Homo sapiens: one gene and its partners. The protein of the gene in region 1 purifies or fractionates together with the protein of each later gene. This does not show direct contact. Each region holds a gene or a part of one and is shown in the gene's direction. Other genes may lie near its edges.

The links.
Region 2: the proteins of AGA (region 1) and HBA2 purify together in Homo sapiens (affinity purification with mass spectrometry, with the first as the bait; 3 studies listed by BioGRID). This does not show direct contact.
Region 3: the proteins of AGA (region 1) and KYAT3 fractionate together in Homo sapiens (co-fractionation; one large-scale study listed by BioGRID). This does not show direct contact.
Region 4: the proteins of AGA (region 1) and FAM177A1 fractionate together in Homo sapiens (co-fractionation; one large-scale study listed by BioGRID). This does not show direct contact.

What each region holds. Positions count from the first base shown.
Region 1 is NC_000004.12:177,432,438-177,435,937, reverse strand, and holds part of AGA (N(4)-(beta-N-acetylglucosaminyl)-L-asparaginase isoform 1 preproprotein), read left to right. Parts: intron 1-1,448; coding exon 1,449-1,556; intron 1,557-2,590; coding exon 2,591-2,724; intron 2,725-3,500. UniProt on the Homo sapiens protein: Cleaves the GlcNAc-Asn bond which joins oligosaccharides to the peptide of asparagine-linked glycoproteins.
Region 2 is NC_000016.10:171,423-174,210, forward strand, and holds HBA2 (hemoglobin subunit alpha), read left to right. Parts: upstream 1-1,453; 5' UTR 1,454-1,490; coding exon 1,491-1,585; intron 1,586-1,702; coding exon 1,703-1,907; intron 1,908-2,049; coding exon 2,050-2,178; 3' UTR 2,179-2,288; downstream 2,289-2,788. UniProt on the Homo sapiens protein: Involved in oxygen transport from the lung to the various peripheral tissues.
Region 3 is NC_000001.11:88,954,630-88,958,129, reverse strand, and holds part of KYAT3 (kynurenine--oxoglutarate transaminase 3), read left to right. Parts: intron 1-2,904; coding exon 2,905-2,981; intron 2,982-3,500. UniProt on the Homo sapiens protein: Catalyzes the irreversible transamination of the L-tryptophan metabolite L-kynurenine to form kynurenic acid (KA), an intermediate in the tryptophan catabolic pathway which is also a broad spectrum antagonist of the three ionotropic excitatory amino acid receptors among others.
Region 4 is NC_000014.9:35,052,772-35,056,271, forward strand, and holds part of FAM177A1 (protein FAM177A1 isoform 1 precursor), read left to right. Parts: intron 1-506; coding exon 507-680; intron 681-3,500.

The sequences.
Region 1 (3,500 bases):
CTCCCACTGGGGTGTGTGTATGTGTGCATGTGTTCAGAACTCCCACTGGCTTGGAAAGAAGGGGTGTGTGTGTGTGTGTGTGTGTGCGTGCACGCAGAACTACTGGCTTGGAAAGAAGGGGTGTGTGTGTGTATGTGTGCGTGTGCGTGCACGCTCAGGGCTCCCACTGGTGTGGGTGTGTGTGTGTGTATTCAGGGCTCCCACTGGCTAGGGAAGAAGGGGTGTGGGGGTGTGTGTGTATTTTGGGGTAGGGGAAGTGGTATTGGAAGATAAGACTACAAGGGAAGACTGGGGCCAGATTTAAGGAGTCTTAAGTCAGTTGAAGGCATTCTGGATTTAATTTTGAAATAGAAAAGCATTAAACATTTCTTACTAGAAAAAAATCTGGTAAAAGTTTGGCACATTACATAGGAAGCGGAAATAGATTATAGATGAGGGAAACCAATTTTGAACATGTTGCAATCATCTGGAAATTAGATGATAAAGGATGGTAATAATAGAATAGTCACTGTAAATCTGTGCCATCCTGGTATATACCTGGCTGATAACAAGTTCTTTTAAAAAATTAATTTTAATGACAATGAAAATTATGTGTATTTGTGGTGTACAACATGATACTTTGATATATGTATATGTTGTAGAATGGCTAAATCAAGCTATTTAACTTATTATCTCACAGACCTATTTTATTATGGTGAGAACACTTAAAATCTACTTAGCAGTTTTCAGCTGGGTGCAGTGGCTCACGCCTGTAATCCCAGCTCTTTGGGAGGCCAAGGCAGGCAGATCACCTGAGGTCAGGAGTTCGAGACCAGCCTGGCCAACATGGTGAAACCCAGTCTCTACTGAAAAAAAAAAAAATACAAAAAATTAGCTGAGCTTGGTGGTTCGTGTCTGTAGTCCCAGCTACTCAGGAGGCTGAGGCAGGGAGAATCGCTTGAACCCAGGAGGCGGAGGTTGCAGTGAGCCAAGATCAATGCCATTGCACTCCAGCTGGGTGACAGAGCAAGACTCCTGTCTCAAAAAAAAAAAATCTACTTCGCAGTTTTCAAATGTGCACTCTATTGTTATTAACCTTAGTCAGCATGATCCGCAGTAGGCCTCTGGAACTTACCCTCCTGCCTAACTGGAATTGTGTGTCCTTTGACCCGCATCTCGCCAGGTCCCCCTCCCCCCAGCCTCCAGTAACCACCATTTTAGTCTCTGTTTCTGTGAGTTCAGCTGTTGTACACTCCACGTCTGATAACAAATTCTTACATAATTAATGCAGGTTTGTGAAAACCTTAGTTAAAAAACTAATGAAGACCTGTTCTGTCTTTGTTCCGATGAAGAATTTACTTAAAACGGTATCAGAGGCTAAGTGGAACTATCCCTTATTTGGAACAGCTTATGACTTAATGTGTTTTACACTCGATTTCCTGCCGTAAATTGTTAATACCCTCTCAAAGCCGTGTAGGAGACTCACCAATACCTGGAGCTGGAGCCTATGCTGACGATACTGCAGGGGCAGCCGCAGCCACTGGGAATGGTGATATATTGATGCGCTTCCTGCCAAGGTATGACTTCTTAGTTTGTGAATTTTAGAGACCTTTGGAGAAGATATTTTTTTCTTTTAAGATAGAAAATAATTTTTGAGGCTGGGTGCAGTGGCTCACGACTGTAATCCTAGCATTTTGGGAGACTGAGGCAGGTGGATCACCTGAGGTCAGGAGTTTGAGACCAGCCTGGCCAACATGGTCTCGAACTCCTGACCGTTTCTACTAAAAATACAAAAAATTTAGCTGGGCATGGTGGCACAAGTCTATAGTCCCAGCTACTCGGGAGGCTGTGGTAGGAGAATCGCTTGAACCTGGGAGACAGAGGTTGCAGTGAACCAAGATCGCGCCACTGCACTCCAGTGTGGGCAACAAGAATGAGACTGTGTCTCAAGAAAATAAAAGAAAGAAAACATAATTTTTGTATTGTGTAACCTGAATTTCTGTGCACAAGAGCTTCTTAGAAACTGCATACAAACTTGTTGCCTATCATTTTGATAATGATAATCATTCAAGTTAAGTAATCATAGTCCTGTGAAATAAAGTAGTATTTCTCACCCTGCTTCCCAGATGAGAATACTTATGATCTATTTAGTAATTGATGTAAAGCTACTGAGTAAAGGAGCTGTGATAATTGATGGTAAAAGTAGGAAGTGCAGTCATCGTGTACCTTTAACCACCCTAGCTAGATGTTGTGCCCATGCACACTACTTTCCCCTTTGATTGTAGCTGTTTTTCTCATTGAAAATCTGTATTCTTTTTGAGTTCTGGCCATTACATTTGACTGTCGGTATCATTACTGACAGTTATTCAGCCAAAGCCAAAAATAATATTCCACATCTGAAATTCATGGGTGGATTAGTTGAAAAGATAGACTCTGTATCAAAGTGGACTTGCTTTGTGGATGCTTTAACAGAAGTAACCGACTCTTGTTCATTTATGTGTATTCTATCACATGTGGCAATTTTGGTGGTTTTAATTTCTAACTTCAAGTAACCCAATTTGGAGTTAGTATTTATTCTGAGACACTAAGGTTTCACCTCTGTTTCAATCAGCTACCAAGCTGTAGAATACATGAGAAGAGGAGAAGATCCAACCATAGCTTGCCAAAAAGTGATTTCAAGAATCCAGAAGCATTTTCCAGAATTCTTTGGGGCTGTTATATGTGCCAATGTGACTGGAAGTTACGGTAAGTTGTGTTTGGATTTTGTATTTGTGTGAACTTCCAAATATTTCTAAAACATACACTTTTTAAATATTGTTTTGTACAATACACTATATTCAATAGAAAAAGAGACTCCTTAAGTGGGCATTGAGTAAATGTTCATTGATGATCTCAAGACCCACAGCGTTAAAAATATACCTAAAAGCCTCTTTGGATTGACTGCTGGTAGTTATGACCCAGTCTCTGACTAGTAGTTCTTATCTTTCACATGTGTCTTAAATGAAGTTTAGCTTCAGCTCCAGTACACGTTGACATAGGCTAATCTAGTCAAATGTTTATACTAATTAAAAATAGACAAGGATAAATTATCTTCCCTATTTCTTTTCTATTCATTATTTAAATGCCTCAGCCATTTAGATCTTCTCGGGGCTCCAAAGAACAAAATGTATTACTAATTAGTAAACCGAAGAGGTTAGCAGAATTATTTTTGCACTGTTTGAGGCTTGTCTTTCACTTCATTTACTTTCCATATGAGCCTATCACAGTTTCAAAGCATTTTAAGATCAGCCACTGCTGATTCTCATTAGTGAATTTTCAGATGGGGAAGATACACAGCTTACTGATCAATATGACTTATTAGGTTGGACTGCTTATTATTGTTCTTTGATCTTTTACTTCCCACAGTTCTATATTTGAAAAACTTGTTTGAGGAATGCTTTATTCTTTTTTAAGCACTAAGACACAAAAGTCAATAAAAATTATGAAGGGGAAAAGCTTTATGTATCAAATAAGGCAGTTCT
Region 2 (2,788 bases), on another chromosome or scaffold:
CACTGCATTAGCGAGGATGGTCTCGATCTCCTGACCTCGCATCTGCCCGCCTCAGCCTCCCAATGTGCTGGGATTACAGGCGTGAGCCACCGCGCCCGGCCTTATGTATTTATTTTTTTGAGACAGAGTCTCGCTGTGTCGTCAGGCTAGAGTGCTGTGGCACGATCTCGGCTCACTGCAACCTCCAACTCCCTGGTTCAAAGGATTCTCCAGCCTCCACCTCCCGAGTAGCTGGGATTACAGGCGTGCACCACCACACCCAGCTAATTTTTGTATTTTTAGTAGAGACGGGGTTTCTCCATGTTGGTCAGCCTGGTCTCGAACTCCCGACCTCAGCTGATCCACCCGCCTTGGCCTCCCAAAGTGCTGGGATTACAGGCGTGAGCCACCGAGCCTGGCCAAACCATCACTTTTCATGAGCAGGGATGCACCCACTGGCACTCCTGCACCTCCCACCCTCCCCCTCGCCAAGTCCACCCCTTCCTTCCTCACCCCACATCCCCTCACCTACATTCTGCAACCACAGGGGCCTTCTCTCCCCTGTCCTTTCCCTACCCAGAGCCAAGTTTGTTTATCTGTTTACAACCAGTATTTACCTAGCAAGTCTTCCATCAGATAGCATTTGGAGAGCTGGGGGTGTCACAGTGAACCACGACCTCTAGGCCAGTGGGAGAGTCAGTCACACAAACTGTGAGTCCATGACTTGGGGCTTAGCCAGCACCCACCACCCCACGCGCCACCCCACAACCCCGGGTAGAGGAGTCTGAATCTGGAGCCGCCCCCAGCCCAGCCCCGTGCTTTTTGCGTCCTGGTGTTTGTTCCTTCCCGGTGCCTGTCACTCAAGCACACTAGTGACTATCGCCAGAGGGAAAGGGAGCTGCAGGAAGCGAGGCTGGAGAGCAGGAGGGGCTCTGCGCAGAAATTCTTTTGAGTTCCTATGGGCCAGGGCGTCCGGGTGCGCGCATTCCTCTCCGCCCCAGGATTGGGCGAAGCCCTCCGGCTCGCACTCGCTCGCCCGTGTGTTCCCCGATCCCGCTGGAGTCGATGCGCGTCCAGCGCGTGCCAGGCCGGGGCGGGGGTGCGGGCTGACTTTCTCCCTCGCTAGGGACGCTCCGGCGCCCGAAAGGAAAGGGTGGCGCTGCGCTCCGGGGTGCACGAGCCGACAGCGCCCGACCCCAACGGGCCGGCCCCGCCAGCGCCGCTACCGCCCTGCCCCCGGGCGAGCGGGATGGGCGGGAGTGGAGTGGCGGGTGGAGGGTGGAGACGTCCTGGCCCCCGCCCCGCGTGCACCCCCAGGGGAGGCCGAGCCCGCCGCCCGGCCCCGCGCAGGCCCCGCCCGGGACTCCCCTGCGGTCCAGGCCGCGCCCCGGGCTCCGCGCCAGCCAATGAGCGCCGCCCGGCCGGGCGTGCCCCCGCGCCCCAAGCATAAACCCTGGCGCGCTCGCGGGCCGGCACTCTTCTGGTCCCCACAGACTCAGAGAGAACCCACCATGGTGCTGTCTCCTGCCGACAAGACCAACGTCAAGGCCGCCTGGGGTAAGGTCGGCGCGCACGCTGGCGAGTATGGTGCGGAGGCCCTGGAGAGGTGAGGCTCCCTCCCCTGCTCCGACCCGGGCTCCTCGCCCGCCCGGACCCACAGGCCACCCTCAACCGTCCTGGCCCCGGACCCAAACCCCACCCCTCACTCTGCTTCTCCCCGCAGGATGTTCCTGTCCTTCCCCACCACCAAGACCTACTTCCCGCACTTCGACCTGAGCCACGGCTCTGCCCAGGTTAAGGGCCACGGCAAGAAGGTGGCCGACGCGCTGACCAACGCCGTGGCGCACGTGGACGACATGCCCAACGCGCTGTCCGCCCTGAGCGACCTGCACGCGCACAAGCTTCGGGTGGACCCGGTCAACTTCAAGGTGAGCGGCGGGCCGGGAGCGATCTGGGTCGAGGGGCGAGATGGCGCCTTCCTCTCAGGGCAGAGGATCACGCGGGTTGCGGGAGGTGTAGCGCAGGCGGCGGCTGCGGGCCTGGGCCGCACTGACCCTCTTCTCTGCACAGCTCCTAAGCCACTGCCTGCTGGTGACCCTGGCCGCCCACCTCCCCGCCGAGTTCACCCCTGCGGTGCACGCCTCCCTGGACAAGTTCCTGGCTTCTGTGAGCACCGTGCTGACCTCCAAATACCGTTAAGCTGGAGCCTCGGTAGCCGTTCCTCCTGCCCGCTGGGCCTCCCAACGGGCCCTCCTCCCCTCCTTGCACCGGCCCTTCCTGGTCTTTGAATAAAGTCTGAGTGGGCAGCAGCCTGTGTGTGCCTGGGTTCTCTCTATCCCGGAATGTGCCAACAATGGAGGTGTTTACCTGTCTCAGACCAAGGACCTCTCTGCAGCTGCATGGGGCTGGGGAGGGAGAACTGCAGGGAGTATGGGAGGGGAAGCTGAGGTGGGCCTGCTCAAGAGAAGGTGCTGAACCATCCCCTGTCCTGAGAGGTGCCAGGCCTGCAGGCAGTGGCTCAGAAGCTGGGGAGGAGAGAGGCATCCAGGGTTCTACTCAGGGAGTCCCAGCATCGCCACCCTCCTTTGAAATCTCCCTGGTTGAACCCAGTTAACATACGCTCTCCATCAAAACAAAACGAAACAAAACAAACTAGCAAAATAGGCTGTCCCCAGTGCAAGTGCAGGTGCCAGAACATTTCTCTCATTCCCACCCCTTCCTGCCAGAGGGTAGGTGGCTGGAGTGAGGGTGCTGGCCCTACTCACACTTCCTGTGTCACGGTGACCCTCTGAGAGCAGCCCAGTCAGTG
Region 3 (3,500 bases), on another chromosome or scaffold:
TAGATATCTGGGGACAAGTGGAATTATAGGCCTGATCGTCAGAATCAAATTATAATGGGATATATTTTTGGCAGTCATCAAAATGTTGGTGGTAGCTGGACACATGGAAGAGAATGAATTTTCTCAAGGGGAATATATAAACAGAGAAGGCAGCCAGAGATTTGCAGGGTGTGACACCTTAATACACCAAAATGTTATCATGTTTTAAATTGTATCAGAGGCCACAATTGCCCATCTTGTTGGTGACCTCTGTCTCAAGTAATTTGAACTGTTTCCCAGTGGAAAATCAGATTAACATGAACAATTACTTTCTTGTTGTAATTAACTCAGTGTAGCAATATTCATCCCAAAAAATCACTTTAGATCATCTTGAAATTTATTGTTTAGATCTACTCATTTTAAGCCCTTCAGGGTAAAGCATAACTGGTAACATTATTTACTAAAGATATGCAACAGTATTTACTAAAGATATGCAAGATGTATATTTTGAACTTAGATTTTTTTATTTGTAGCAGCCCATAAAGTTTAAATAAGACCAAAAAATGGATACACTATTTCATTATTTAGAAAGTGCAATTTGTTTGCATTAAAACTTAGGTATTCTATCGAATACAATAGTCTTTGTTACATTAAAGATGCAAAATGGCTACAAAATGGCCATTACATCAATTTGCAAAGTGCAACAGTAGTCCTTTAATATATGATGTATCCTTTACTTTAAAGGAAGTGATAATCTGCATTATACGTAGTTTAGATTTTCTCTGATCAAATAGAAAAGTGGGGCATGTGTCATAGTGTTCTTTTGGAGTATTTTGGAAGACCAGAAATGTCTCAGAAGGGATATAATTATTTATATCAAATCTTAAAGTATTCCTTCTTCAAGTGGACATTCTAACTATTTTTCTCATTTATCTTTTTGGGTTTTGTCATATTCCACAGAGAATAAAATTATAACTTTTCTGATTTATATGCTTTTCCTACTGTTTCAAATTTAGCAGGTATTTCAGGGTAGACTGAAATTACTTATACGTTGTTTTGGAAATTTCTGTAGCTGCCTTACATTTTAGTAGGCACTTTACTTGCTTATGAGCAGATTACTTCAAGAAAGCAGAAGCTTAGATTCCCAGAGATGAGCATTTATTTTCCCTTTGTGTGTACCAACACTCTAAGGACAATACAAGAGCCCCCACTTGTGCTTCTGAAAAACAAGTGGAAAAACTTGTGGGTTGCATGGAAAGAACTTCACAAGTAAATTACTTGAGGAATCCACAAAGCAGTATTGTGGGTGGCATTGTCAGAAGAGTGACAGAATGGTAATTTACCAGTTATTACCAATGTCTAGCAAAATTTACAAACTCTTGCATTTTAGACCTCTAGACCTTTGTTACCTGCATTTTCTTAGCCCAAAATATCTTCATTCCCCTTCTCTGCCTGGCTACAGCCTATGTGGTCTTCTATGTCTCAGCTTAAGAATTACTGGCTGCAGAAAGCCACCCTCAACACCCTCTTCTATTCTTGCATCACCCTCCATGCCTCCTACTACAGCATTTATCACACTGCATTACAGTTGTCATTGTATGTGGCTCATGTCCCTACTAGACATTAAATTTTTTGAAGAATTGCATCTTATTCATTTTTGGTTCCTCTAGACCTTAGTCCTTAGCACCTGGTGGTTGCTAATGAATATTTGATGTATGAATGAATCAATGTCTTTATTAAAGATGTTAAACAACTTGAAAACCATTATACAGCCAATTCACATTATTCTTGAGTTCTGTATTTGCAAATTTGCCTACTTCCTAAAATATATGTGTAATTCCAAAATCAATAAAGGGGAAATTTGAGTCACCCTACACACATTCCCAGTCGAGGTCAAACAAGGCAACATTATGCTTCTGTTTCAATTCACACTATAAGCAATTGTTCTCTGTACAGTGATTTTGCTGTTTAAAATGGCCCCCAAGCCTAGTGCTGAAGTGCTGTCTAGTATTCCTAAGTGCAAGAAGGCTGTGATGTTCCTTACGGAGAAAATATGTGTGTTTGATAAGTTTCATTCAGGCACAATGGCCATGAGGATATTAAAGAGTGATAGCTAAAAGGTACAGGGCTTCTTTTGAGATAAAAAAAGTGTTCTGAAATTGGTTATGGTGATAGTTGCACAGATCTATAGATATACTAAAAAAATCACTGAATGGCATACTTTAAATTGGTGAATTTATGGGATTTATATCCCAATAAAGTTGTTAGCAAAACACACGCCCATACACACATACACACACACATGCACACACACACACACATGTGCACACATGATTACTGGGTCCCACTCCCAGAGTTTCTGATTCAGTAGGTCTGGGATGAGGCCCAGTGATTTGCCTTTCTTACAAGTTGCCCAGTGATGCTGATATTGCTAGTGTGAGATCACATTTTAAGAGCCATTGCTCTAGGAAGCCTGGAGAAATACACTCAGAAAATAGGCAAAATAAAGGGGCCTAAACAATAATCAGGATCACAACCTAAGCCCTGCCACTGGCCTATTTTATCGAACCTGCAGTCACTGCTAACATTGAACACTGAATGCTACAGCTCCTGTGACAGCTGCCACTTAAGGCAGTCTGGAACACTGCCTGCTGGTGCCCCTGACACTCCTGCCCCAGAACTAATTTTAAAATTATTAAATCTATTTATATACTATCTTGGTGCAACATTACAGTATTGTAAACTTTTCGTCTGTGTTTTGCATTAAAGTTACATTATCTAAAAAAAAAACTAGAAATAACTATACTGGCTAAATTATAACACACTTATTTTCATTGAATTTATGTATCTTTGTTATGTTTTTAGATTATACTAAATGTGATTAATTGGAAAACAATATTTACCCTTTTTTCCTCCTCTGTTTAGCTACTTTTCCAGGTATGTGGGAGAGAACAATAACAATAGGAAGTGCTGGAAAGACTTTCAGTGTAACTGGCTGGAAGGTAAGATGAGTAAGAATTTAATTGCTTAAAAATAGGCCTGTATATTATTTATTTTTTGTTGAGTGGTTTGTGTTTTAAATGCTGGCCAGGCATGGTGGCTCATGCCTGTAATCCCAGCACTTTGGGAGGCTAAGGCAGGAGGATCACTTAAGGCCAGGAGTTCAAGACCAACCTTGGCTACATGGTGAGACCCTGTCTCTACAAATACATTTTTTAAAAATTAGCCAGGCAGGGTGGTGCATGCCTGCAGTCCCAGCAACTTGGGAGGCTGAAATGGGAGGATCACTTGCGCTCAGGAAGTTGAGGCTGCTGTGAGCTGCGCTCCAGCCACTTGGAGACAGAACAAGACCATCTTTAAAAAAATAATGAAATAAATAAGTAAACAAATAAATGAATCATTGCATACATATTCAGTTTATATAGATTTTTATACCTGGTGATCTTTGCTTATCTCTTGACTTATTTGGCTTTCATGTTGAGTTTTATCCTTTTTGAGACCTAATTATTTCTTTAAACATA
Region 4 (3,500 bases), on another chromosome or scaffold:
ATTAGCCAAGTGTGGTGGCATGCTCCTATAGTCCCAGGTACTCAGGAGGTGGACACAGAAGGATCACTTGAGGCCAGGAATTTGAGATTGCAGTGAGCCGTGATTGCACTACTGCTCTCCAGCCTAGGCAACAGCCAGACCCTGTCTGGGGGAAAAAAAAATTCCATAGACTACTAAAGTTTAAGAACTTGTGAAATCTTTTTACTATCAGAAATCTCTTTTGTTACATATGTATTACTGGCCAAGACATCTGGAAGTTCAGAGATACAATGCTGATAATCTGCTTTCCAGATTTGGTTTACAAATGGTGGGTTTTATTTGGTCTGCCATAGTCTTGACACTGTACTCCAGCCTGAGCAATAGAGTGAGACCATGTCTCAGAACAAACCAAAACTGCTTAAAGATTTATTTCTTTACTACAATAAACCTACCAAAAGTTTTTCACGTGTAATGAAAGAAAATTAATCTCACTTGAAACTCATTTTCTTAAAATATCGTTGATATAGATGAGTAACGAAAGAGGCTTTGAAAATGTAGAACTGGGAGTCATAGGAAAAAAGAAGAAAGTCCCAAGGAGAGTCATCCACTTTGTTAGTGGTGAAACAATGGAAGAATATAGCACAGATGAAGACGAAGTTGATGGCCTGGAGAAGAAAGATGTTTTGCCTACTGTTGATCCGGTAGGTTTGATATTGATGATTCTTTCCTCAGTGGGCTTTGTTTTGATTTATTTTTTTTCCCTAAACATTGAGTGGAAGGGACCTTTTGAGGTTTAAATCAACTATATTCTTATTATAAAATTATGTATGGTGATTTTGATAGAAAATAATATTTTTACATGATATGGACGGAAATATTTCCAGCATTTCAGTAGCCTGAAACAGCTTGTTTTTCAGTGTCAGAGTACTGTGTTAGTATGGATAGATTTAAGATTGATCAGCCAGGCGCGGTGGCTCACACCTGTAATCCCAGCACTTTGGGAAGCTGAGGTGGGTGGATCACCTGAGGTCAGGAGTTTGAGAACAGCCTGGCCAACATGGCAAAACGCCATCTCTACTAAAAATACAAAAAATTAGCTGGACGTATTGGTGGACACCTGTAATCCCAGCTACTTGGGAGGCTGAGGCAGGAGAATTGCTTGAATCTGGGAGGTGGAGGTTGCGGTGAACCAAGGTTATGCCATTGCACTCCAGCCTCGGGGACAGAGCGAGACTCTGTCTCAAAAAAAAGATTTATCTTACTAAATTGAGTGCTTGAATCCCAGTTCCTTTGATTTAAGGACTGTACTGCCATGATAGTTTCCACCCAAAACTTAGGGAGTTGTCAGCTTTTTAAAATACTGCCTCAACAGGAGAATGGCATGAACCCGGGAGGCAGAGCTTGCAGTGAGCCGAGATCGCGCCACTGCACTACAGCCTGGGCAACAGAGTGAGACTCCATCTCAAAAACAAAACAAAACAAAACAAAAGTTTGCTTCAAGTTTTGATTGGAAGATAAGAATATACATTTCTGAACTTTGTGTGCCTTATCAACTAACTTGGAGAATTTCTAAATTATACAAGATGTGACTGTACAATTATGAGACTAGCTATATATTTATAAAGAAATTTTTATTTATTTATAAAGAAATGCCCTTCAAGTAATTATTTTGAGAGTCCAGGTAATCACATATTTACTGACTTTCTAACAGGTACTATTTTAGGTGCCGGTGATATAGCAGTGGGTGATATAAATTTCTGCTCTCATATACTAGTGAGAAGACAGGCAATAAATAAATATATACTATAATTATCAGGCTATGAAAAGTGCTATAAAGAAAATTAAGCATAGTTACAGAATAGAGAATTGTTTATATTTGATTTTAAAAATGTTACTCCTTTTCATCAGATTTGGCTTTAAATATTTGGCTATTAGAAAATCATGCCAGGTGTGGTGGCTGACACCTGTAATCCCAGCGCTTTGGGAGGTCGAGGCAGGCAGATCACCTGAGGTCGGGAGTTCAAGACCAGCCTGACCAACATGGAGAAACCCCATCTCTACTAAAAATACAAAAAAATTAGCCAGGCATGGTGGTGCATGCCTGTAATCCCAGCTACCCAGGAGGCTGAGGCAGGAGAATCGCTTGAACCCAGGAGGCGAAGGTTGCGGTGGGCCAAGATCGTGCCATTGCACTCCAGCCTGGGCAATAAGAGCGAAACTTGGTCTCAAAAAATAAAAAAATAAAAAATAAAATAAAAAATGATAAGCAGGCCAGGAGCAATGGTTCACGCCTATAATCGCAGCACTTTGGGAGGCCGAGGTGGGTGGATCACCTGAGGTCAGGAGTTCGAGACCAGCCTGGCCAACATGGTGAAACTCTGTCTCTACTAAAAATACAAAAAATTAGGCAGGCGTGATGGCAGGCGCCTGTAATCCCAGCTACTCAGGAGGCTGAGGCAGGAGAATTGCTTCAACCCGGGAAGCAGAGGTTGCAGTGAGCCGAGATCGTGCCATTGTACTCCAGCCTGGTCAACAAGGGTGAAACTCCATCTAAAAAAAAAAAAAAAATCGGATATTCTACACAGAAAATATTCAAAGATTGTACCATATACTTTGAAGGTAGTTCCAAATGCAGGTAGAATATTAGGGGTACATAACTAGGACTAGAATTGCTGGGTCATGCAATAACTGTTTTTTTTTTTTTTTTGAGACAGGGTCTGTCACTCAGGCTGGAGTTCAGTGGCACAATCTTGGCTCACTGAAGCCTCTGCCTCCTGGGTTTAAGCGATTCTCGTGCCTCAGCCTCCCAAGTAGCTGGGATTGCAGGCATACACCTCCACGCCCGGCTAATTTTTGTATTTTTTTTAGTAGAGATGCAGTTTCACCATGTTGGTTAAGCTGGTCTCGAGCTCCTGCCTCAGCCTCCCAAAGTGCTGGGATTACAGGCATGAGCCACCACACACAGCCCTAAGTCTATGTTTAGATGTCTGGGGAACTGCCTGACTGTTTTCCAAAGTGGCTGCACTATTTTAAATTCCTACCAGCAGTGTGTAAGGATAATGATTTCTCCACATATTCAGCATCACTTGTTACTATGTGTCTTTTTATTTTTTTGTTCTCTTGTGCCTTTGCTATGTATCTTCTTGATTTTAGCAACCCTAGTGAATATGTTATTTCATTGTCGTTTTGATTTACATTCCCTTGATGGTCAGTGATGTTGAGCATCCTTTCAGGTGCATATTGGCCATTTGTAATCTTCCTTTGCTTATTTTGATTAGGTTATTTATTTATTTTTATTTTTTGAGAGGGAGTCTGGCTCTGTCACCCAGACTGGAGTGCAGTGGCGTGATCTTAGCTTACTGCAACCTCTGCCTCCCTGGTTTAAGCAACTTTCCTGCCTCAGCCTCCTGAGTAGCTGGGACTACAGAAACGCACCACCACACCCAGCTAATTTTTGTATTTTTAGTAGAGACATGCTTTCACTATGTTGGCCAGGCTGGTCTTAAACTCCTGACCTCAAG